4 linked regions of the Homo sapiens genome follow. The protein of the gene in region 2 purifies or fractionates together with the protein of the main gene of each other region. This does not show direct contact. Each region holds a gene or a part of one and is shown on either strand. Other genes may lie near its edges. The genes, in order: RSAD1, LIG3, PREPL and APTX.

Region 1 (4,648 bases), about 15 Mb from region 2:
TGTCTACAACTTTTAAATTATTCAGAAAAAAAATTATACAGACATATTTATCTAAAGATGAAGTAAATGTGGCCAAAAATTAACAATTGATGAATCTATAGGGTAACCACAAAGTATGGAAACTTTTTTTTTTTTTTTTTTGGAAGCAGAGTCTTGCTATGTTGCCCAGGTTGGCCTCAAACCCTTGGGCTCAAGTGATTCTCCCGTCTTGGCCTCCCCAAGTGCTGGGATTATAGGCATGCACCACCCCATCTGGCCTATCATATTTTTCAATAGATTGAAGATGTTCTTGATGGCATTATGAATATTTGCCTATTTCCAGACTTTATAGTTACATAGTAGACAAAGGATATATGGCTTCCAATGAACTATTCTTTTATCTTTTCTGTAGGTCTGAAATCCTTCAAAATAAAATGTAGGGAGCGGGGGAAGGAATCTCAGCCCTAGGCTAAGGTTCTAGTCCCAAAATCAGGATTCCACGCTCTAGGAAGGAGCTCAAAGGAGAGGACCACAGTCAAGACAGGCTCCAGATGTGTTTATTAGGCTATTTAAATAGAACCATGTGACCATTTCTGTAGGTAAAAGGACAAAGAAGAATTACAAACACTTTGGGTCTTTCCCGAATTCTCTCCCCTTTCTCTGGTCAACTCCACCCACCTTCACTCTCAAAGGAAAGGCACAGGGGGAAGGAAGTGAGTGAGGGGGCTCAGAAGAGTCTGTGTGGCTCCTACCACCCCAAACATATTCTGGTTTCCCGAAGATAAGAGGCAAGGCTTGCTCTGATCTTTCCCAGTTCTCAGAGTCCAGCAGGCCGCTGTGCTGGACACATACATGGATCCACCAACATACATCAGTCCTTCTGTGTTCTCTCCTGCATGGTAGAGGCTGGAAGCCTAAGAGCTATATTCCTCAGAATTTCCTGCCAGCCAGGATTTGCTTTAAAGTCCACTAATGAGAGGCACTTCTAGAAACCATGATTCCTTCTCCAGCAGTGGCAGACAGTAGGCATGAGGTTTTGTAGCATCTTCTGAGCATTTTCCAGTACATCATCTGCTTTTGTGCTGCTGGAAGCTGAGACCATCAGCAGGAGTTTTCTGTGCCTCCTGCAAGTTGCTGATTTCTCACAGTTGCTACTGGCTTTCTCCAATGTTCACTTCTCTATCCCTTTCAGTGGTTTATAAATACTTCATTCCTATAGTAGATCCCTTCCTGCTTATATTAATAATACCTAGAGGGGACATGGTTTTCCTGATTCATCCAGCTATCTTAGGACCTTACTCCAAAATAAGGAAGGCTTCTCTTGGGGAGGTAATTGCCTGTAGAAAGATTTCCAAACACTGTTCATTATTTGATGCCAAAAAGGTAAACAGAAGCTGATGTGGGTGGTAGGCAATTCCCAGCCATGGAACACATGTTGGCCTGTGAGTCCTGAGATGCTGAATGGGATGCCAGTTCCCTGACCAGAAATGTCCTCCCATCTACCTCACTGCTGCCATTCCCCTGGGGATGCCAGGGCTGAGCAATAACCACAAGGAGCAGAGACGGCACCCGACAACGGAGAAGAGATGTCTGCAGTACCGACCCAGCTCTCAAAACCCACCTGGCATTACCCTGGAACACAGGAACATTTTTGTCATCCTCCTGGCACAGGGGAGGGGGTTCTCTGCTGCCAGGCTTCTTGGAGCTGAGGCAGGAGGGTCAGCAAGAGAGAGTCCAGCACAGCCAGACCCTCCCAGGAACACCGAAGACCCCTGGAAAACCAAGAGGCCTGAAGGTGACTACTTCATCTTACCAATTTCAAGCCCATCACCCAGCAGGGCCGAGCTCCCAGCACCCGCAGGTCCCGCCTTACCAGTCAGTCTTTCTCACTTCTCCTGGGTCTGTGGAGAGCTGTAGTCAGGGCTCCCTGGTATGCCTCAGCCCCCTCTGCCCGGCACCCCCCAACACACCTGTGATCCAGCTGCAGTAGGCCCCGCTCCAGCAGCTCCTGCACCTCCTTGTTCGCTCCAAACACATCCCACAGGGTCAGCTGGGGCTCAAACTGCTGCCAGTGCTGGGGAAGCCAGAGGGTCAGAGGTGGGGAGCTGGCCTGGCTACTCTGGGCCACATAGTTGGGGTATGGTGAGAGGTGGGGGAGGGTCCAGTTCAGCATGGAGATCTCAGCAGCTGACATGCATGAAAGCAGAACCAGGCCAATGGGCCAGCAGGGAGGAGGGCAGCTTCACTCCTATTCCACTGAGACTGGAACCCAGCTTCCAGCCAAGCCAGGCCTTCCTCTATGCCTCCTCTCTTCCCTCCCCTCTCAGCCAGCTCTAGCCAGGGCTTTATGGCTCTGCTTTATCCAGAGCAGCTCTGGATTTGCTTGATAATTATCTACTGTGCTTCCTATGAGAGGTTTCAGTGCTCCCTAAAAACAAGTGGAAACCCTTTATCTATCTATTGCTTCACAGAGCTCAGAAAATTGAGGTTAAGAGAGGTGAAAGGATTTGTGTCCAAGGTTGCAGTAAAATGAGGGCTGGAACTTGGGTCTCTGCAGCCCTGGTCTAGGGTTCTTAGCTATGCACCACTGCTCACTGCTTCTGCCCATCAGGCCTCAGCTGGACCTGGGCCCCACTTCTAGCTGCCAATCTCACAGAAATTGGAGGTATATGTGTGTGGGGGGGGTGGCAGGGAGGGGGCATTGATTCTGCAAGACTTTAGGAGGGAGTGGTGTGCAAGAATCCTAACTCCTTACCTGGTGAGTGATCCCCACATCGGTGCGTAGCCCCAGGGCCAAAACTTCCTCCAGCCTCAAAGAAAAATCACCAAGGAGTCTTAGAGAGGAGGCCTGTGCTCCTCCCATTCTCCAAATTCTACACTGGGATGCATTTAGAGGAGGCTAACAGGGACCATACAGTATGTGGCAAGGCAGGGGCCAGGACAAGACAGGAAATAAAAGATATACAAATAGACATGGTCTTGGGGTGTGGGGATCCTGGAGGAGAGCCCTGTGCCCTTGGATGCTCACAGCTCCAGCCTGCCCAGGGGGACACGCTTCCGGGTGCCATGGCCAAACAGCATCACCTCCTTCATCCAGTTGTCAGGCTCCAGTGTCTGGATCCGAGCCTCCCGGGTGTGGCCTCCAGCCCCCTGGGGCATAAATCGTCCATGGGCCCCTGACAACATCAACAACCATCCCCACATTAATGGCTGTTAATACTATGTGTTTACCAGATTTAAATCATGTGGTCCCTGGAGCAACTGCCTCTAACATACTGGAAATATAAATTATTTTTCTTTTCTTTTCTTTCTTTCTTTCTTTCTTTTTTTTTTTTTTTTTTTTGAGGTGGTGTCTCACTATACTGCCCAGGCTGGTCTTGGACGCCTGGGGTCAAACGATCTTTCCACCTCAGCTTCCCAAGTAGCTCAGATTAGAGGCACATGACACCAGGCCCTTTTTTCTTTTTCTTTTTTTTTTAATCATCTATCCCAAAATGCCAAGACATATAAATTCTTGGGCTCTCCTCTAGCCCTGTCCAATTGGGAATTCTGAGGGTGGGGCCCAGCAGCTTGGGTTTTAACAAGCCCTCCAGGAGATTCTCATACACACTAAAGGCTGAGAACCCTAGTGCAAGGTGCAACATTAAGCCCCTTATAATTCATGCTCAACAGTTCTATAGGGAGGTATTATTTTTTGCCACATTTTACATATGAGAAAATAGAGGCTTGGAGAGGTTAATGTGGCCCAAGTTCACACAGCCACGACATTCCTCTCCTGAGTCACCCTTTCTGTAGTTCACGGGACTCACCAGGCCCAACGCCAAGGTACTGACCACACTGCCAGTAAGTCCAATTGTGGGTACTGAGCGCCCCCTGCGGGGAGGGAGGAAATAGTGCAGAGTGAAGAGGGCAGGCCTCATTTTTAGACTCAGGTAAGGGGCCCCAGGTTAGAATGTCCCACCATCTCGGCCAGGATCCTTCTCTTCAGAAGGTCACAACGCCCTGGTCACACTGCAGTCTGCCCATCCTCCACCTCCAGCCATCAGCCCCAGAACTTACATTCCGGGCAAAGTTGGAGACCTCATACTGGTGGAAGCCAGCCTCCCGAAGGACAGCCCGGCCCCTCTGGTACATCTCAGCTGCGAGCTCCGGGTCAGGGGCTGGAAGGGCACCCCGCTGCACCTGGGCGAAGAGTGCGGTGCCCCGCTCCAGGGACAGCTGGTAGAGGGAGAGGTGGTCATCACAGTGGTGCAGCAGTTCCTGCAGCTGCCCAAGCCACGGCCCCACCTGCTGTGCCGGCAGCCCCAGCATCAAGTCTACAGACACGCGCCCGGGAAAGAGGCGCCGGGCCTCTGCCAGCGTCCGCAGAGCATCGCAGGCCGAGTGCGTCCGTCCCAACAGCCGGAGCTCAGTGTCATCTAGGGACTGGGAAAAGAGGGTGGGTGTAAGCATACCAGCAGCTCAGAGAGAGACAAGAACCCTCCTCCCCATTGTAGACACAGATACAGGGAGAACGCAGCACGTGGCAGGCAGCTGGAAGGCAGGAGGGGGAAGGTCAAGCTGGCACCAAGAGCTGCCATTCACAGAAGGGTCGCTATGTGCCAAGCACCTTTATGTAGTGTCTAATTTAATCTTTGTAACCCTCCAATATTAGTTCTATTTTACAGAT
Region 2 (7,033 bases):
AGAGCTGGAAGGCTGGGAAGAGCTGGAAGATAATGAGAAGGAACAGATAACCCAGCACATTGCAGGTAAGGTAGAGAACACTGCTTTCTCATCTTACTGGTGCTGAGAGAAAAAGGGATAAGGAGTTCAACTGCTTTCTTTCTCTTTTTTTTAACTTTGCTCTTTTAGAGATGGGGTCTCACTCTGTTGCCTAGGCCAGTGTTTAATGTTGCATTCGTAGCTCACTGCAGCTTTGCACTGCTGGACTCAGGTCATCCTGACTCAGCCTCCCAAGTAGTTGGGATTACAGGCGCATGCCACCATGCCCAGCCTTTAACGTTTTATTTGGAAATAATTTTAAACTCACTGAAGTGTTGGAAGATTAAAAATAGTACAAAGAACATTCATATTCCTTTTACCCATATTTACCTATTAACATTTTACTCTATTTGCTTTATCATATTTGTTCATGTGCTGTCTCTCTCTACATACATACACACGTGTGCGTGCACTCACTTTAAACCATTTGAGAATAAGTTGCATACATCATGGCCCTTTAAAATTCTTCAGTGTATATACCTTAAGAATAGGATATATGACCCTTATGCGACTATAATATAGCTATCATCTTCAGAAAATTTGTCCTTGATGTAATACTTAAATCTACCATCTGTATACTATTTTGTCAATGGATTGAGTCATACCTTCAGTAGCCTTTTCCTGCAGTATAGGATCCCAGTCTAGGATCATATCAGGTGTTGCATTTAGTTGTCATGTTTCTTTGGCCTCCTTTAATCTGAAATATTTCCATAGTCTCTCTTTTATGACATTGATATTTTGGAAGAATAGAGTACTGATTACTATCCTCTTTTACTTTTTTTCTTGTAGCATATAATTCATTACTGTACTTAACTAATTTGATACTTAATTGTCCCATATTTGGCCAATTAGGAACCCCTTTACACTGTCCTCTGTGTCCTGTATACCTTCATTAACTTTTTTTAATGTACTTCTTTACTCTTGAGCATAGCAAGATGCTTTTAGTCTTATCCCGTATGTATCCTTCCCCAGCCCTGAAATTGGTAATTTCTCTGGGGATTCCTGTTAGTGGGAAATGCCCCTGTTAAAGAGTAAAACCTGGATACTATGTGTCCACATTGTCATGGGGTATCTGTTTCTTCTTTTTTTTTTTTTTGAGAGTCTCACTCTGACCCAGGCTGGAGTGTAGTGGCACTATCCTGTTAGTGGGAAATGGTATTAAAGAGTAAAACCCGGATACTATGTGAACACATTGTCATGGGGTATCTGTTTCTTCTTTTTTTTTTTTTTGAGACAGAGTCTCACTCTGTGACCCAGGCTGGAGTGCAGTGGCACTGTCTTAGCTCACTGCAACCTCTGCCTTCCAGGTTCAAGCAATTGTCCTGTCTCAGCCTCCCAAGTAGCTGGGACTACAGGCACTTGACACCACACCCAGCTAATTTTTGTGTTTTTAGTAGAGACAGGGTTTCACCATGTTGGTCCAGCTGGTGTTGAACCCCTGACTTCAAGTGATCCACCCACCTTGGCCTCCCAAAGTGCTGGGATTACAGGCCTGAGCGCCCAGCCATGGCATGTCTGTTTCTAAGCCCTTTCAGCAGACAGAGCTAGAAAATATGTGCGTGTATATGCATGTAAAATTCATACCTATATATGGCTATATATAACATGTTTGCATGTACATGCATATTTACATATGCATATTTTAGAAATTTTATGCCAATACCCCCAAATCCAGTTAGTCCTCTTTGACCTTCAGTGTCTGTAAAATAATGTTCATATCTTCAACTTAGTTCTGGTCACCATAGGAAGACAGTTAACAATGGCTCTAAAAATGGGTATCTGTCCTTGTTCTTTGAAAGGAAAAAAGACTTCCGGGAAAGAAAACTGTGCTTCCCATATACTTTATTCTCAGGCTCCCCATCCCACCTTGCACTGCCTTAGCTATTGGCCTCGGCCTTTGTTACTTCTTGACCCATCTCTCATTTGGAGGAAGAGAAATACAGGTAGAGTTCATGACTCAGATAACTAAGCATCTGGAAATTTTCCTTCCTATGCTAGGTTGACATGCTCTGTGATCCTCATTTACTTTTTGTTCATCTCTAAATTGAAGCTAATTCTGTGGGGTTGGGGGTTCCCTAAGTTTTATCCATCAAACTATGATTTCTGATTTCCCCCAAATTGTTATTTCTGGAGACTTACATATGGGATAAGAAGTGGAGAATGTTGATGAAAATTTAAGGTACTAATAGAGATAAATGGTAACTGGATCTTTTGTCTCCAGCATATCCTTCCCTTCTGTCCCCACAATACCCTATTACCTACTACCCCCACTCAAAAAATACCAGCCACCAGCCAGCCTTGGGCTAGTGCTAGGGTAGTGACTTAACAAGCAAGGCCCTAGGAGCAGTTGATAGATTCTTTGGATGTTTTTTTCAGAGATCGTTCACTGAAGGATATTTTATACTCTTTTGGGATCCTACAGATCTGTCTTCTAAGGCAGCAGGTACACCAAAGAAGAAAGCTGTTGTCCAGGCTAAGTTGACAACCACTGGCCAGGTGACTTCTCCAGTGAAAGGCGCCTCATTTGTCACCAGTACCAATCCCCGGAAATTTTCTGGCTTTTCAGGTAAGATAGGTTAGGGCTACTTTAGCTGTTATAGTGCTGCTTTTATTTTGTATTCTACCTAGGATTCTGGCTAAAGAGTGAAAATTCTGTGCTATCTCATCTCATTAATAATTTGCTTCTGTCTGAGCAGAGACTGGTAATGGCTAATTCTAAGCCTTCCGCTTGGTTTTTGTTTGTTTGTTTGTTTTTTGGTTTTGGGGGTTTTTTTGAGATGAAATCTTGCTCTGTCATCCAAGCTGGAGTGCAGTGGTGCATTCTCAGCTCACTGCAACCTCCGCCTCCTGGGTTCAAGCGATTCTCCCACCTCAGCCTCCCAAGTAGCTGGGATTACAGGCACCTGCCACCATGCCTGACTAATTTTTGTATTTTTAGTAGAGATGGGGTTTCGCCACGTTGGCCAGGCTGGTCTCAAACTCCTGACCTCAGGTGATCCACCTGCCCCAGCTTCCCAAAGTGCTGGGATTGCAGGCGTGAGCCACTGCGCTCGGCCAGCATTCCACTTGTATAGCATTTCTTTGTATACTTTAACCTCTATCGCAGCGGAAAGATTTGTTTTGTCAAGACTTTTTCCCCTTGAAATAGTTACCTGGGCCAGACAGAGATTATTAGAACCTGTCTTTTACTTCCTTGTGTTTTGATAATGAAAGAATTTTGAGAAATTGTTTCCCTGAATATGCCTAGAAATGAAAGTATGAAAGAAGGGAGATGTCATGCATGGATCTCCCTTCTTGATTCTTAAAACTGTTTATTCAAAACACTGGAACTTCATGGAACACAAAGGAAGGAAAAAAAGATCTGAAGGATATTGCTATTTGTTGGGAGGCAGTACAGCCTAGGGATGAAGCTTGCAGACTTTGGAATCAGTGAGCTCTGGGTTCAAATCCCATCTCCTAAAGGGGAGGACTGTGGCTATTATTTGTAGGACAGATGAACAATAAAGTGTTAAGTTTCCTGTTCTCTTCACTAAAATACACACATGCACACACGTGTATACACACATATATAGTTTCTTTTATATAAAATATAGAATTACTATTTCATAGACAGGGATTCAGGAAGACTTTGCTGGGGCATGTGGTATAGATAGGAGTTGAGAAGATCAGGATCATTTATTGGCCTTACGTAAACAGACAGCATTGGACTAGGGGCTTTTATATATGTAGTTTCATTTCTTCTTCAGTTAACCCTAGACAGTACTTTTATTTAGGAAGTACTTTTTATTAGGCCCTTTTTATGACTGAGAAAGTTGACGTTCAGGGTTATCATGGAGTTAGTATTTGTACTGAAGTCTGACTTCAGTACTTGTGCTCTTTTATACTACACTGTGTTGCTGCTTTTATTGTTTGGAGACATTCTTGTGATTGACTCAGCTGAAGAAAATAAATAAAGCCAAACCACTTGGCCTTATTTTAGAAGTCATTTGGAGATTGAAAGACATTTTATGTGATTGAAAGAAGCCTAGACCTGAGGTCAGAAGACTTGGGTTCTGGTCCTTGACAGCTCAGATCCCTGAGCACGTCCTTACCTCTCTTTAGCCTCTGTCTATGAAGCAGCAGTGGCCTCTCCTACCATAGTGCTATGCACAGGGTGCTATAGGAGCACAGGCAGCAATATATAGATTACTTTCCCCTCTGCTTCAGTGAGTTTGTGTATTTATTTGTTTAAGCTTCATCATATCTCCATGCCTCATCTACCCCATAGTGTTCTCATGAGGACTGTAAGAGATAACATTGCAAAAACGGTGCCTGGCTCTATAGGATTTTTATTATTTAAAAATTCTGGGCCGGGCGCGGTGGCTCACACTTGTAATCCCAGCACTTTGGGAGGCCGAGGCGGGCGGATCACGAGGTCAGGAGATCGAGACCATCCTGGCTAACACAGTGAAACCCTGTCTCTACTAAAAATAAAAAAATTAGCCGGGCGTGGTGGCAGGCACCTGTAGTCCCAGCTACTCAGGAGGCTGAGGCAGGAGAATGGCATGAACCCTGGGGGCAGAGCCTGCAGTGAGCCAAGATCGCGCCACTGCACTCCAGCCTGGGCGACAGCGAGACTCTGTCTCAAAAAAAAAAAAAAAAAAAAAAAAAATTCTGAGGTTGGTTGGTTTGTTGTTTGCTGGTAGGCCAAAGATAGAGAAGAGTCCAGGTGATGATAAGGACAGCATGTTTCTGGAAGGGCTCCGGTGTTGGGGATGGAATTTGGGAGGAGTTGAGAGAAAGAGAGTGTTTTAGTTCTTGCAACCTGGTTGAACATTGACACTTTGGAGATTTTGTCCCCTAAAATCATATTTAGATTCCGGATCAGAGATGAGGATGGATTTATAATTTACAAAGCCCAGACAAGAAACAGTGTACAACAGCAGTTAGCTTAGTAATGGCTCTGCCACAAGTTTGCCGAATAAAATTTGCTTTTTAAATGGTCACAAGGAGGTGAAAGGGAATCACCGATGAGTTGCACATAATTATTTTTAAGTGTCTGGAGGAAATCCCTGCCCCTTGACCACCTTTTGTAAAAATGTATTATTTTTTTTTTATAACTGCTCCTTGGGGAGCAGGGTTTTATTTTGACAATAAGAAAAGAAAAGTTGAAGCAGCGAGGGGTAGGGATGTTGAGTGTACTAATGGAATCTGACTTTCTTAGTAGTGTCTTTGTCCTGGCTCTTTCAACAAGGAAGTGGGCCAGGAAGTCATTTGCTCTTCTCAGACCTCAGTCCCCTTATCAGTAAGAGAACATTGAACTAGATAATCTTTAAGGCTTCTTCCAGCTCTGACAACCTGTGATAGCAGTAATTTCACATTGTCTAACACGTACTTGATTTCTTACCCCTTTCTCATGCCAGCTTTTCTGGGATCAGCTTTACAATTGCTCTGAGATCCTTCTGACCACTTTTTTTTTTTGAGGCAGGATCTTACTATGTTGCCCAGGCTGGTCTCGAACTCCTGGGCTCAAGCAGTCCTCCCGCGTTGGCCTCGCATAGTGTTAGGGTTACAGGCGTGAGCCACTGTGCCCAGCCAGTCCTGATCATTCTTGGCATGACTTTGGTCTTTATTCTTCAGTAAAGTGCTCACATAAAGAGATGCACATCAGTCTGGTCTTTTGCTTGGGTCTAAGGAGGCCATTGTTCCTTTAACATTATTTATTAGCTGTAAGATTTGGGAAAATTACTTGGCCTCCATTTCTTTATCTGTAAGATGGATATAATGACATCTACCCCAAAAGTCTATTCGGGGAGATTAAATAAAGCTAAATACCAGCAGAATATCTGTTAGTTTCCTTCCTTCCCTTTCTTTCTTCTCAGAAAGGCAGAATGAATTCATCTCTGTTGTTTCTCCAACAGCCAAGCCCAACAACTCTGGGGAAGCCCCCTCGAGCCCCACCCCTAAGAGAAGTCTGTCTTCAAGCAAATGTGACCCCAGGCATAAGGACTGTCTGCTACGGGAGTTTCGAAAGTTATGCGCCATGGTGGCCGATAATCCTAGCTACAACACGAAGACCCAGATCATCCAGGACTTCCTTCGGAAAGGCTCAGCAGGAGGTGTGGCATGAGCATCCTGAATAGGCCTTTCCTCCGGAGAGCTCAAGGCCATGGCTGCCTTCCTGGGCATGTGAGCTGTATAGTTGCCCGGGATCCCATGCTTGGTTTAATGCTGTACTGTAGTGCTATCTGGAAATTCTTAATAATTTTGAACAAGGGGCCTCGCATTTGCATTTTGCACTGTACTCCACAAATTATGTAGCCAGTTTTTCTCAGAGCACTTTGGCATCTGTCTTCCTCTCCCCTTATTCTGCTCCTAGGAGGCCAGAAGAACCCATCCTATTTGACTAGTTAGAAAATTTACTGTCCTACATATTTAATTAGGTTTTTGTGAACCATATACACAGTTTGGAATAGAATCTTCCAACTCTGTTTCTTTCATTTATCTAACAAATTGTCGATGAGCATCTCTGATGTCCTTGTCACTGGGCACGTGAAGTGAAACTAACCACTCTGTCCAACAAGAGTTCATCTGTAGGCTAAAGGTGAGGCAGACACAATCCACCAGCCTCTGAACTCCATGCTGTCTCCTACTATAGCGATATGCACAGGGTACTATAGGAGCATGGGCAGCGATATATAGATATCTTTTGGTCTCTGCTTCTTTGAGTTTGTTTGTTTGTTTATTTATTGAGACAAAAAATGTGGCTGTGTTGCCCAGGCTGGAGCGCATGGGTGCAATCTCAGCTCACTGCAACCTCCGCCTCCTGGGCTCAAGCAGTCCTTCTGCCTCAGCCTCCCAAGTAGCTGGGACTATAGGCATGTGCCGCTATGCCTGGCTAATTTTTGTATTTTTTGTAGAGACGGGGTTTTGCTGTTTTGCCCAGGTTGGTCTCAAACTCCTGGATTCAATTAAT
Region 3 (7,033 bases), on a different chromosome or scaffold from region 2:
CATTCTATTTTATGAATATACATACTAATATGAGAGAAAATAACTCAAGCCATGTAGATTCCTAGGAGCTAGAATACTCAGTCCTTAACCAGGGCCTGTAATTTATAACCTACTTTTAAAGTCTTCAGATTCCTTAAATGACATATAACAAGAAATGGTTTATCTTCTAATTTCACAATATTTATTTTTAGCTTAGTACCTTTTATTCATTTATATTTTTTCTTATATAAAAGCAATAAATGCTACTGTCTCATACCAATTAGGACAGTTAGTTATTATATTAAAACAACAACAACAACAACAAGTATTGGCAGTAATGTGGAGAAACCGGAATCCTGATACACTGGTGGTTGGAATGTAAAATGGGGGAGCTGCTTTGGAAAACAGTATGGTGGTTCATCAAAGAGTTAAGCTTAAGATTACCATATGATCCAGCAATTCCACTCCTGGCATATAATCCCCAAAACTGAAAGCAGGGTCTTAAAGAGATCTGCATACCTATGTTCACAGCAGCATATTCACAACAGCCAAAAGGTGGAAGCAACTCAAGTGTCCATTAACCAAAGAACGAATAAGCAAAATGTGGTATACACATGCAATATTACATGGAATATTATTCAGCCTTAAAAATGAATAAAATTCTGATCCACGCTACAATATGGATGAACCTCAAGGATATAATCTAAGTGAAATAAGCCAGTCACAAAAAATTTTGTATGACTCCACCTATGTGAGGTGTTTGAGTAGTCAAATTCACAGAGACAGAGGCTGTGGGAAGAAGCAAATGGAGAGCTGTTTAATCGGTACAGGGTTTCAGTTTTGTTAAGATGAAAAACGAGTTCTGGAGATTGACTGCATAAGCCTATGAGTGCACTTACCACTACTGAACTATTCACTTAAAAATGGTTGAGATGGTAAATTTTATGGTATTTTACCATAATTAAAAATTTTTAAATGAAAAAAATACACAAGGAATAAAGTCTTTTTGACCAGTTGGACATTTTATATTAAAAGCAAAAAACGCTAAGTAAAGAAACTCTGCAAAATACCCAAGGTGAAAGAAGAGAAAACAACCCATTGGCTTATAATTAGTGTTACAAAATTTAATAAAACGAAGGCTGGGTCGCACATGGTGGCTCATGCCTGTAATCCCAGCACATTGGGAGGCTGAGGTGGGCAAATCACTTGAGCCCAGGAGTTTGAAACTAGCCTGGGTAGCATGGTAAAACCACATCTCTACAAAACAACAACAAACCACAAAAATTAGCAGGGCATGGTGGCACATGCCTGTAGTCCCAGATACTCAGGAGGCTGAGGTGGGAGGATCACCTGAGCCCCAGAGGTCGAGGCTGTAGTGAGCTGTGTTCGTGTGCCATTGCATTCCAGCCTGGGTGAAAGAGCAAAACTCTGACTCAAAAAACAAAACAAAACAAAACAAAAAAACAAAAACCCCACAAAAACAACAAAACAAAAATGAAGGCTGTATTTTTCACTTAGCTTTATTTTCTTCTGTTAACATACTTTTTAGCTTTCCCTCATATTAACATTAACCAAGTATAGTGAGTCATCTGTAATTCTTTTTGGCTGCCTACCATATGAACTTTTTTGCATTTGAAAAACCTCCAACCTTATCAGCTAGAGCCTGCCTCTCACTGTGGAGATACTAAGTGCTAGACTTCTCTTTCCCATTTTTCCCTGCAGCTTGGGAGTAGCTGTGTGACCCATGTGTGACTTGGGTCTATCAACCAGACACATGTGCTTTACACTCTGCATGGAAAGTTAGTGATTCAAAGAAGCAGTGATCACAGATAATTTATTCTGGCAAAAGTGCCACAGCTATATCCAGCTCTAGAAGTTGCACTGGCAGTGTGAGGTGATTTGTGCTTGGCAGTGGCGGCAGTAATAGTTTCATTGGGCCAATTCTATGCCTTTGGCTCTGAAGCCTCTAACACTGGTCTGAAGACACCTACATTTTCCTAATGCCCTTTAATCCCTTTTCTGCTTAAATTAGGGTTGATTTTTGGTGCTTATAAGAAGAATTTGACTTATACATGTATAAAAGGTTGTCTCCTAGTCTTCACTATAATAAGCAACCTAGCATAAATATCCTTCTCATCATTTCCTTTTAAATTTCTAAAAGTCAAAATCTAGTTGCTTTGTCTTTAAACTGTAAATAATTCTGCCATTATCTTTGTGCATAGGCTATTCTCCACATTTTTCTGTTTTTAAAAAATAGACTTACAGGTGACTACTATTTAACACTTATTTACAAGCCCACAGTATAAACTCCCCAACCTCAAAATAAAAAATCCTGAAAATAATTTACTCTCTCCCATCTCAGTCATTATTTTTCAGAGTAACCTAGAAGTAGGAGAATGATAGCAGTGAAACCAACTGCTACAATGTAACTTCGTAATTTCTGACACTGGGAAAAGATAATCATTTTCAGAACAGGGTAAGATATTTCAATTAAAATACGGAAAAACTATGCCCAAACGACCATTAAGAATGGACTATCTAAAAATAAAGAGCCTATAAATCTAGGACTGAAATGTTGATGGGCAGTAGCCTGTCAAGGTGACCAGGAGCCAAAGGACTCAGTGCATTCCAGAGTCACAGCGTGCTTTGCCTGGCTTTCTCAACTGGGACTCATATATGCTTCAGTGCTTTTTCACCAATTCTAAATGTCCTTACAAATACAAATGAGCAATGGAAATAGCCATTAATATCTTTCAGTGGAAAGCCTTAAAGATAATAAAGAACACTGTATCAGAGAAGAATAACGGTTAATAGTTGGATTAAAATAACTTTAGAAGTTCTCCTCAAGCTATAATTCTGAGTTTAAAACTTAAAAGCTTTGTTATACTCCTATGCTATGGTAAAACTGTAACAGAAATGTTTTTCTTTCCTTTTTTTTTTTTTTTTTTGACAATGTCTCACTCTGTTGCCCAGGCTGGAGCACAGTGGTCCACTGCAGCCTCAACCTCTTAAGAGATCCTCTTACCAACAAGCCTGGGTAGGTTTTTTTTTTTTTTTAATTTCTTGCAGAGACAGGGTCTCGCCATGTTGCCCAGGCTGGTCTCGAGCTCCTGGTAAGCAATCTGCCCACCTCAGTTTCCCGAAGTGCTGGGATTACAGGCATGAGCCGCTGTGCCAGCCCAAAAACATTTTTCTTAGAGTAGCCTATGGCTTCACACCTCCCCCATTCTATAAACAGTAGAGACAGAGCGTACTCACCTCCAAAGTCACCGCTCTCACCAGCTCTGGATTAGAATTACACAATGCTCCTGCAAGCACCCCTCCAGCACTGAAAGCAGTCAGGGTTGTTAGACTTGGCTGAGAAAAGCCTTGGCCATGAAGCGTCTTAATGCAAGCCTCTAAATCAGCAAGGCCATTGAGTTTTTTAGTTAGGCGGCCATCAGCGTGCCACTGGAGGCCTAACTCACCACCACCTCTGAAATTGAAGGGCAAAAAAGTTTTAGTGGAAAAAAAAAGTTAATACTGTAGGCTGGGGTCAGCGAACTACACCTGGAGGCCTGTTTTTTGTGTGGCCCTGGAGCTAAGACTGGTTTTTGCTTTTTAAAGGTTGAGTGAAAACAAGGAATGTGCAACAGAAACTGTACGCGGCCTGCAAAGCTTAAAATGTGACTATGTAGCTCTTTAGAGAAAAAGGTTTGCCAACTCCTGATATAGACAATCCAGAATTGATTCAACGAATATATTTTGAGTGCCTGCCCATTTATCAGGGATTAAGTACAGACCTTAAAAGTAGAAACAAACGAAAATCCCCTACCGTGGAGAAGACAGTAATTTTGTGGGGTAAGAAAACAACGACTTACCCAGCAATGTGGTGTCATTGCTACAATACAAGTGTATTTAAGGTATTACAGGAGCAGAGGAAAGAACATCCATCTGCCAGGTGAGGGGTATATACACGAGTCAGGAACACAAATGCTTTTAAGGAGATGATGCCTAAACTGAGTTGTGAAGGAAAAATTTGAGTTTCCAGAGGGCAAAGAAAAGGCATTAAGACACAGATACGACACAGCATGTATAAGGGCAAGGAGGTGACAGAGCATGTCATTTAAAAGACATGACTTTGGGGGCTGGACACAGTGCCTCAAGCCTGTCATCTCAGCATTTTGGTAGGCTGAGGTGAGCAGGTCACTTGAGGTCAGGAGTTTGAGACCAGACTGGCCAACATGGTGAAACCCCCGTCTCTCCTAAAAATAGAAAAAATTAGCCAGGTGTGGTGGTGCGTGCCTATAAGCCCAACTACTCGGGAGGCTGAGGCAAGAGAATTACTTGAACCTGGGAGGCGGAGGTTGCAGTGAGCGGAGATTGCGCCACTGCACTCTAGCCTGGGAGACAGAGTGAGACTCCATCTCAAAAAAATACAAAACAAAATAAAAAAAATAAAAGGACATGATTTTGGAAGGCTGAGGCGGGCGGACTGCTTGAGCTCAGGAGTTCGAGACCAGCCTGGGCAACATTGGAAAACCCTGTCTCTACTAAAATACAAAAAAATCGGGCTGGTACGGTGGCTCATGCCTGTAATCCCAGCACTTTGGGAGGCTGAGGCGGGCGGATCACTTGAGGTCAGGAGTTCGAGACCAGCCTGGCCAACATGGTGAAACCCCATCGCTACAAAAATTTCAAAAATTAGTCAGGAGTTATGGCAGGCACCTGTAATCCCAGCTACTCAGGAGGCTGAGGCAGGAGAATCGCTTGAACCCTGGCCAAGATCATGCCACTGCACACTCCAGCCTGGGCGACAGAGCAAGATTCTATCTCAAAAAAAAAAAAAAAAAAATTCAGACAGTGTGGTGGTGTGCGCCTGTAGTCCCAGCTACTCAGGAGCCTGAAGCATGAGAATCACTTGAACCTGGGAGGCAGAGGTTGCAGTGAGCCGAGATTGTGCCACTGCACTCCAGCCTGGGCGACAAAGCAAAACTGTCTCAAACAAAAAAAAAAAAAAAAAAAAAAAAAGGGTCTGATGCTAAATGCCGCTACAGAGATCCATCAGACCATTAGGAGTATTATACTGGGGAATCTGGACTGTGTTCTAGAGATGGGGAGGTGGAGAAGAATTTTAAGCAGAAATACAAAATAATATTTGTGTCTTGAAAACAGCTGAAATAAAATGGAAGTTAAATGGAAAACAGTTCAGATTCAGAGGCTACTTAAACCTGAATTCAGGAGAACTGAAAGGAAATAATAATATTACTAAATAAGTACAGAGTCTGGTACCTCTATGCAAAAATCCTAAAAACCTATCCTTTTGCTTTTTGGATCAACTAATCTGTTAAAGAATCAAGTTTCACCAGTGCTGGTTTAGGAATACAAAAATTGAATAATAAGAATGAAAAAAATAAGCTTTTGTTCCCTGATATATATTGTTATTCTTGACATCTCTCACAATGGTCTAGCACTTACATGCCAGGTAAAATATACTGACTCACCGAACATGGCAGTATGCTAATATCCATCCATCATCCACCAGGACCCGCCTCTCAGGCCTGAAATTCATTTTCAAATCCATTCCATAAGCTCCATATACATGTACCAAGAGAGGTTTCTTCTGCAAGTCCTCAGAGTCAGTTTTGTGGAAAACAGTCATTGGCACTAATTTTCCATCCTAGAAATGAAGAATTACTATGTATGTAAAGAAGAGTCTTTTATAATAACTGTTTTATCCCAATTTAAAATACATTGAGGTGCACTGTCCCCACTTGTGTGCTACCTACTGATGTTGAGCACAAATTTGTTTAAGAAAAAGAATTATGGTCTCTAAAAATAAATCATGGCTTTTGGTTTCAGCTACCTTGCTGTCCTACAGTATTAACCAGAAAAGAGCAGCAAGACTGGCCTGAAAACATTTTATTAAATGCAGCTTTTCATGACAATAATGTAATTTTAAAGAGTTCTTCACTACCTACTATAATTTTAAATTTTCAGATGAAACCAAAATACTTACCAAGGTTAGAAGTCCTAGTATAGCACTCTTCCTATGCCTAAGAGCTAGATATTGGCATTTTTCACTTTTGAGTATCTACAAATATGCTGACTAAAGTCTTACCAGCTCAATTTTCTATATCCTCTGTAGTCGGAATTCTCAACCATTAAGACCTGAAATCTTACTGATGTTACTGATAACTACCACAATCCTCTTCAAAGGCCCATTTAACTTTATTAAAAAAAATTTAAAGTGGTCTTAAAATTTTTCGGTAAAATTCTTTGTAGGGTTAAAGTAAGTTAAATTATTTGTAAGGTTACTAAGTTACTTGTAGGTTATGTAACCATCCCCCAATGTAGCTCAAACTCATCAGTTCCAGTTGATTGAAACTAGGCAGTCTCTGAACAGACAAAAGAACTAATTCTGATCTACCTTTCACACAAAAAAGATAAAGAAATTGGTTTTCACCCTGCTTAAACTAATGAAATAGCACCGTTTACATAAAGAAAATAAATAATACATCCAAGTCACTCTTCATATTTTCATTCTCATTTTGAAAACTTCACTTTGGGGCAATAACTGGAGACAGCAAAATGTAATCAAATAAGGAGGAAATTCTCCTCTCATTCTTCTTTAAAATACCCAAGTTGTTATGACATTGTTAACTTTCACTTTTAGTAAGATTCACTTTTATAAAACTTGATGTAGATTAATTTCTATAAAACACTCTTGGTCTTTTCACTTCCCAACTCTTCCCCAACTTCAATTATACAATCAGAAAAAGTTGCTTGTTGAAAAGTTTTGAAAGGAAGAGGTAAAACAGTAGCTACTCCTGTGATGGGCTGGATCTGGGTTTGCCAGCAGTACTAAAATGCCTGTGGAAAGGTATAGCGCTTCCATTCAGCAGCTGCTTCCCTTCTCCCCTCTTGGCTCTCCAAGAACATGGTGCTTAACTGTTCTTTCCATCTCGGGTCCAATAATTGCAACATTTTGATAGACTAGTCTAATTCCATGTTTGTAAAACCAAATAAAACCTATCTAAAAGATAATACACTAAGTGGGTAACAATGATTATTT
Region 4 (7,033 bases), on a different chromosome or scaffold from region 2:
TTTTGTATTTTTAGTAGAGATAGGGTTTTACCACGTTGGCTAGGCTGGTCACAAACTCCTGACCTCGTGATCCGCCTGCCTTGGGCTCCCAAAGTGCTGGGATTACAGGCCTGAGACACCGCACCTGGCCAGTGTGTCCTTTTATTCCTTTGTCATTCCCCAAATGTCATCAGTAATTAAGTATGTCTTCCAGATTTCTCCTGGCTCTTCTTGCTCTCCATCCCCTTTGCTTCGGCCATTGTTGAGGTCTCATCTCTCTTCTGAATTTCTTGTCTCTTTCTCTTTTACTGATAGTCCACATGGCCATAAGGGTTGTTTTTCAAAAGAATATCAGCACTTCCATTGTTTTGCGCGTTGCGTATTGCACAAAATTGTCACATTCACACTTTAGAAATTGTAGGTTTGCGGCCGGGCACGGTGGCTCATGCCTGTAATCCCAGCACTTTGGGAGGCCGAGGCAGGCGGATCACCTGAGGCCAGGAGGTCGAGACCAGACTGACCAACATGGAGAAACCTAGTCTCTACTAAAAATATAAAATTAGCTGACTGTGGTGACACATGCCCATAATCCCAGCTACTCGGGAGGCTGAGGCAGGAGAATCGCTTGAACCCAGGAGGCAGAGGTTGCAGTGAGCCAAGATTGTGCCATTGCACTCCAGCCTGGGCAACAAGAGTGAAGCTCCGTCTCAGAAAAAAAAAAAAGTAAAGAAATTGTAGATTTGCATATTTATTATGACTGTCTCCTGGCAGATGGGAGTGAAATATATTGTTCTAACATCAGTATGTCATGACAGGGAAGGAAAACCTATGACACATAAAGACACCTAAGCACTAGAGAACATCTTTTTTATGTCCTTAGTTCTCTGGCAGGCAAACTCCTTCTCATCCTTTAAAACCGCACATTAATATCCCTTCCTCGTGAAGCCTTTTAAAATATTCTCCACAAGAGTCAGTCAGTCCTTTTACTGGGCTAATGCCATATTTGGTTACTCTCTTCTTGTAGTGTTTATCACATTATATTGTATATATTGGTATATGATTCTGTCTGTCCTACTGCACTCCAGGCTCCTCAAGGACAGGGACAATGTCCCTGTTTTATTCATCCTTTGACTTTCAATATGTAGCCTAATGTCCAGCACATATCAATACATGTGTAACAGGCCAGGTGTGATGGCTTATGCTTGTAATCCCAGCACTTTGGGAGGCAGAGGCGGGTGGATCACCTGAGGTCAGAAGTTTGAGACCAGCCTGGCCAACATGGTGAAACCCTGTCTCCACTAAAAATACAAAAATTAGCCAGGTGTGGTGGCGGGTGCCTGTAATCCCAGCTACTCAGGAGGCTAAGGCAGGAGAATTGCTTGAACCCGGAAGGTGGAGGTTGCCGTGAGCCGAGATTGTGCCACTGCGTGCCAGCCTGGGGGACACAGCGAGACTCTGTCTCAAAATAAATAAAATAAATAAATAAATAAATGTGTAATAAATATTTGATTGCCTAGCATGATTCAGGCAGGGAGGTAAATACTTACTCACATTATCTCATTTAATTTTCACAACAGCCTCCTGAGTCCCATCATTATCATGGTTTATAGGTGAGGAAATTGAGACTAGGGTGGTGAAGTCACTTGCCTCAAGATGAACAGCTGGTAGATCACATGCGTGGTGGCACCGGGTGTGGCCCTGGAGGACTCGTGCTAGTGGATCTGTTTTTCTAGTGATTCTTTTGTTTTGTCCCTTAGAGTGATGATGCGGGTGTGCTGGTTGGTGAGACAGGACAGCCGGCACCAGCGAATCAGACTTCCACATTTGGAAGCAGTTGTGATTGGGCGTGGCCCAGAGACCAAGATCACTGATAAGAAATGTTCTCGACAGCAAGGTAACTGGTCATAGAAATGTGGAGATTACTATGGTTATGTGGGATAGTGATAACCAAAGATGCATATTTTCTGGGTGATCTTGATGGAAAATCTATTGTCTGCCAAAAATACAGCTCAGGAACTGAGCTCTTTTAGCCAACACCAGGGCCCTATTTATTCCTGATTCTGCCCTCCCAATGTGATAATGTTCAAGGCAGGGTGGGTGAAGGTTGGGAGCAGTCAAGTTCATACTGTTACCATGGGATGGTGGAATTGAGTCCTGCCCTCCTTTCCCCAGGGACATTGCTCAATGGGCAGCAAGATGTAAACTCTGGAGTCTACAGGTGAAACCATGTCTTTCTGAGAAGTAATGGGGTAGTGCCGTCCTTTACATATTGCTTCACGCAAAGTATTATGAGACAGTGGCATCTAGCACTTGTCTTAGGGTTTAATAACATGAAAGTCCTTGCCCTCAGAAAAAAATCCTTACCATGTACCTTGTTTTTTCCTGTAAACATGCACACTGCTGGCTGGAGTGTGACCCCCCCACAGCAAGGTTTCCCAAGGGTTCTGAACTTAGAGAGTTGGCATCTGCAGCACTGATTATGATCTTTCCTATATGAGTTAATCTAAGTGGAGGGATACAAAGCCATGCTTGAGCTGAGTAGGCCCAAGATGCAGAAGCAGTGGCTGCTTCTCTCTCTGTTCCCTTCCTCACAACAGCAACTGAAGGGGCATGTATGTGGCACCCTGTCCTCTCTGGGGAGCAGCTATGGTGGTTCTTCTTTCCTCCCTGTCTCAACTCCAGATACCTTGTTCATTTATCAGAACAGGAATGCTTAATGTTACCACTTCTCACACATGCTCAGATTGTTCTGTCTCTGCAATCATCTTTCTAGAACATTCTTTCCACTCCTTCTACCCAAAGCCACCTGAGTTTCTGTTTTCCAGGAATGTGTCTTTTACTGTTTTATCTTTTAAAGCATCTAATAGTTGTTGTTTTTCCAAAATAATAGTGGAAGCCTGATTTAATCCTTGGTCAAGAGTTCGTGTGAGAAATGGATCTTTTTTTTTTTTTTTTTTTTTTTTTTTCCTCCTGAGATAGGGTCTCACTCTGTTGCCCAGGCTGGAGTGTAGTGGTGCGATCTTGACTCACTGCAACCTCCACCTCCTGGGGCTCAAGTGATTCTCCCACCTCAGTCTCCCAAGTAGCTGGGACTACAGGCATGTGCCACCACACCTGGCTAATTTTTGTATTTTTTTGTAGAGACGGGGTATTGCCATGCTGCCCAGGCTGGGAGAAACAGGTCTTCTTTTCTGGCGGCAGAGTCTGTGATCATGAGCAGGCCAGGGGTTCTGGAATAGGGAAACTTGTGGGGATTAATTGAAGCTGCCTCATAGGGATCTTGGCAATAGCTAAGGGAGTATGTACGCTGTTGGACATTTTATGGAAGGATTTAAACCTTTAGAAATTGGTAGGATTTGGAGCTCCAGCCACCTGCAATAACAGGTGATTGCTAATAGGCCTTTAAGGAAACACCACCTGTTCAGCTGCCGCCTGTAGTGAAGCTTGTTTTCTTTAGGGAAGATAGGAGCAAGTGCCTGGTTCTTTGTTGCATTTGTGTTTAACTTTTTCCAATCTCTTTCAGTACAGTTGAAAGCAGAGTGTAACAAGGGATATGTCAAGGTAAAGCAGGTAGGTGTATTTATAACTTGGAATTTTATACTCGATGATTTTCTTATGCTGTTGACTTTAGAGTGTCTGTGCCAGCCAGTGAAGGCTTCTCTGTCATGTATGGAAGTGATGGAGTAATATAGGTGAACATAAGGCAAGGTGCTTGGCATATAGTAAGTGGTTAACATAGCAGTGGCTATCTTACTGTAGGTGCTGTTGCTATTATTATAATTATTTTCTGATTGTTTATTCCATAGGTAGGAGTCAATCCCACCAGCATTGACTCAGTCGTAATTGGGAAGGACCAAGAGGTGAAGCTGCAGCCTGGCCAGGTTCTCCACATGGTGAATGAACTTTATCCATATATTGTAGAGTTTGAGGAAGAGGCAAAGAACCCTGGCCTGGAAACACACAGGAAGAGAAAGAGATCAGGCAACAGTGATTCTATAGAAAGGGATGCTGCTCAGGAAGCTGAGGCTGGGACAGGGCTGGAACCTGGGAGCAACTCTGGCCAATGCTCTGTGCCCCTAAAGAAGGGAAAAGATGCACCTATCAAAAAGGTGAGGGTAGTGTGATTGGTAGATGATGTGGAGAAGAAATGAAATATAATGACTGCTTAATTGTTTTGTACACTTTAAAGTTCAGAAATGCGTGAGGGGTTATTAACCATGATGAAAGAGTCACTTGTTTGTGGCGTGAAAATCATTTGGATGAATGTTCCTTTATGTGCTTTTTTCTTAAATTCCTGAGGTAAGCCACCTGAAGGTACAACAATAATGGCAGTGTGTACTTAACATTGAACAACTAAAGTGGATCAGTTGTTTATGCATCTATAGAAGGTTTTCATAGATCATGTAATTCATATGCTGATGTCAAAGTGGAGAATTGGTCAGGCTGTAGCTGCAGTGAGAGAGGGCAAAGAAGGTATGACTCATACTCTGGCATTTCTCGCCTTCATTTAGAACAGCCAGCTGTGAATATAGGAAGGCTGGCTGGGTGCAGTGGTTCACGCCTGTAATCTCAGCGCTTTGGGAGGCCGAGGTGGGCAGATCACTTGAGGGTCAGGAGTTTGAGACCTGCCTGGCAAACATTGTGAAACTCCATGTCTACTAAAAATACAAAAATTAGCTGGGCCTGGTGGTACACACATGCTTGTAATCCCAGCTACTCGGGAGGCTGAGGCGGGAGGATTGCTTGAACCTGGAAGGCGGAGGTTGCAGTGAGCTGAGATTGCACCACTGCACTCCAGCCTGGGCGACAGAGCGAGACTCCATCTCAAAAAACAACAACAATAATAAAAAACAGCTGGGTGTGCTGGCTCACGCCTGTAATCCCAGCACTTTGGGAGGCCGAGATGGGCAGATCACCTGAGGTCAGGAGTTCGAGACCAGCCTGACCAACATGGCAAAACCTAATCTCTACTAAAAATACAAAATTAGCTGGGCGTGGTGGTGCATGCCTATAATCCCAGCAACTCCAGAGGCTGGGCAGGAGCATCGCTTGAACCCGGGAGGCAGAGGTTGCAGTGAGCCGAGATCACGCCATTGTACTCCAGCCTGGGCAACAAGAGCGAAACCCCATCTCAAAAAAAAAAAGAAAGAATATAGGGTCGGGTGTGGTGGCTCACGCCTGTAATCCCAGCACTTGGGGAGGTGGAGGCCAGTGGATCACCTGAGGTGAGGAGTTCAAGACCAGCATGGCCAACCTGGTGAAACTCCGTCTCTACTAAAAAATACAAAAGTTAGCTGGGCGTGGTGGTGGGCACCTGTAATCCCAGCTACTTGGGAGGCTGAGGCAGGAGAATCACTTCGGAGGTTGCAGTGATCACGCCGCTGCACTCCAGCTTGGGTGAGACAGAGTGAGACTTTGTCTCAAAAAAAAAGAGAATATAGGAAGGCAATGGAGTGAAGCAGAGTCAAGTGAATCTTGTTTAATTCTCAAAAACTAAGCTTATTTCCAAGTTTAGTTGTGCTATCACACAGTATTAACTGTTGCCAAATTTAATTATTGGCATTTGTAATTTACATTGCTTGTTTTTTTTTTTTTTTGTTTTTTTTTTTGTTTTTTTTTTAGGAATCCCTGGGCCACTGGAGTCAAGGCTTGAAGATTTCTATGCAGGACCCCAAAATGCAGGTCAGAATACAATTTTGGAATTTCAGTACATTTCATGTTGTAAATGACCACTCCACAGAGGTCTTAATTACAAATGAAATCAAAGGATATCAGTCTTTCTGAATGAGATTCATTTTATTGGGCTGTTCTGTGAGAACAAGAGGCTTTTCACATTGGCAATAAAGTAGCAGCTGTCATTGTTTGGAGAGAAAGCTGAGTTCTTCAAATGAATATCCCCTCTGCCTTGTGCCTTTTAAACTTCTGGGTACTTTAAGGGAAGTTGCATTAACCTTAGTATGGTTCCTTTCAGGGGAGCATCAGAGATAATACACTGTGACAGTAGTACTGTGCTGCCCTGGCATTAACAGTCAGACATCCCTGTAATCCCAGCACTTTGGGAGGCCGAGACGGGAGGATCACCTGAGGTCAGGAGTTCGAGATCAGCCTGACCAACATGGAGAAACCCTGTCTCTACTAAAAATACAAAAAATTAGCTGGGCATGGTGGTGCATGCCTGTAATCTCAGCTACTCGAGAGGCTGAGGCAGGAGAATCACTTGAATCCGGGAGGTGGAGGTTGCGGTGAGCTGAGATTGCACCATTGTACTCCAGCCTGGGCAACAAGAGCGAAACTCCATCTCAAAAAAAAAAAAAAAAAAAAAAAAACAGGCATCATCCTTGAGGAGCCTTTGAGTCCCACTTCAATTATATTCCTTGTTGACAAGGGGCAGGTCTAATAGGGCTCACTGGAACCCACGTGTACGTGTCACACAGTCTGCCATGTTGGAGTGGAGAAGGATGCTTTTGAATTTATGTCTACAGAGATTTTACATCACATTCTTGGGAACTATTTTGTACTGTGCATCTTCTGTGTATTCTGTGTAGTGTGGTGGTTGAAAACAGACTCTGGAGTCAACCACATCTGAGTTGGAATCCTAGATTTCCCTCTTAGGAACTATGACTTGTGCAAGACACTCAACCTGTCTGAATTTCAGTGCTCTCCTCTCTCAAAACTGGGCTATTAAAACCATTTGCACAAGACTGTGGGAATTAAGTGACTTAGTGAATATAACAACCAGGCACACAGAAGATTCTTAGTAGATGTCTGTTTCCTTCTCTTGTATCCCTCTGCTAGGTTTACAAAGATGAGCAGGTGGTGGTGATAAAGGATAAATACCCAAAGGCCCGTTACCATTGGCTGGTCTTACCGTGGACCTCCATTTCCAGTCTGAAGGCTGTGGCCAGGGAACACCTTGAACTCCTTAAGCATATGCACACTGTGGGGGAAAAGGTGATTGTAGATTTTGCTGGGTCCAGCAAACTCCGCTTCCGATTGGGCTACCACGCCATTCCGAGTATGAGGTAAGCCAGGTGGGTAGTGCTGCTGGCTCCTG

Evidence for each region.
Region 1: the proteins of LIG3 (region 2) and RSAD1 purify together in Homo sapiens (affinity purification with mass spectrometry; 2 studies listed by BioGRID and IntAct, with this or other methods). This does not show direct contact.
Region 3: the proteins of LIG3 (region 2) and PREPL purify together in Homo sapiens (affinity purification with mass spectrometry; 2 studies listed by BioGRID and IntAct, with this or other methods). This does not show direct contact.
Region 4: the proteins of LIG3 (region 2) and APTX purify together in Homo sapiens (affinity purification with mass spectrometry; 3 studies listed by BioGRID and IntAct, with this or other methods). This does not show direct contact.

Annotation. Positions count from the first base shown.
Region 1 is NC_000017.11:50,481,847-50,486,494, reverse strand, and holds the end of RSAD1 (radical S-adenosyl methionine domain-containing protein 1, mitochondrial precursor), read right to left. Parts: intron 4,405-4,648; coding exon 4,039-4,404; intron 3,853-4,038; coding exon 3,789-3,852; intron 3,156-3,788; coding exon 3,008-3,155; intron 2,790-3,007; coding exon 2,735-2,789; intron 2,054-2,734; coding exon 1,950-2,053; exon of another isoform or gene 1,853-1,949; intron 1,752-1,852; coding exon 1,634-1,751; 3' UTR 521-1,633; downstream 1-520.
Region 2 is NC_000017.11:34,983,488-34,990,520, forward strand, and holds part of LIG3 (DNA ligase 3 isoform alpha precursor), read left to right. Parts: coding exon 1-65; intron 66-2,500; coding exon 2,501-2,644; intron 2,645-5,978; coding exon 5,979-6,176; intron 6,177-7,033. UniProt on the Homo sapiens protein: Isoform 3 functions as a heterodimer with DNA-repair protein XRCC1 in the nucleus and can correct defective DNA strand-break repair and sister chromatid exchange following treatment with ionizing radiation and alkylating agents.
Region 3 is NC_000002.12:44,323,475-44,330,507, forward strand, and holds part of PREPL (prolyl endopeptidase-like), read right to left. Parts: intron 5,639-7,033; coding exon 5,463-5,638; intron 3,455-5,462; coding exon 3,238-3,454; intron 1-3,237. UniProt on the Homo sapiens protein: Serine peptidase whose precise substrate specificity remains unclear. Does not cleave peptides after a arginine or lysine residue. Regulates trans-Golgi network morphology and sorting by regulating the membrane binding of the AP-1 complex.
Region 4 is NC_000009.12:32,984,599-32,991,631, reverse strand, and holds part of APTX (aprataxin), read left to right. Parts: intron 1-1,712; exon of another isoform or gene 1,713-1,736; 5' UTR 1,737-1,740; coding exon 1,741-1,873; intron 1,874-3,502; coding exon 3,503-3,549; intron 3,550-3,785; coding exon 3,786-4,088; intron 4,089-5,601; coding exon 5,602-5,661; intron 5,662-6,774; coding exon 6,775-7,001; intron 7,002-7,033. UniProt on the Homo sapiens protein: DNA-binding protein involved in single-strand DNA break repair, double-strand DNA break repair and base excision repair.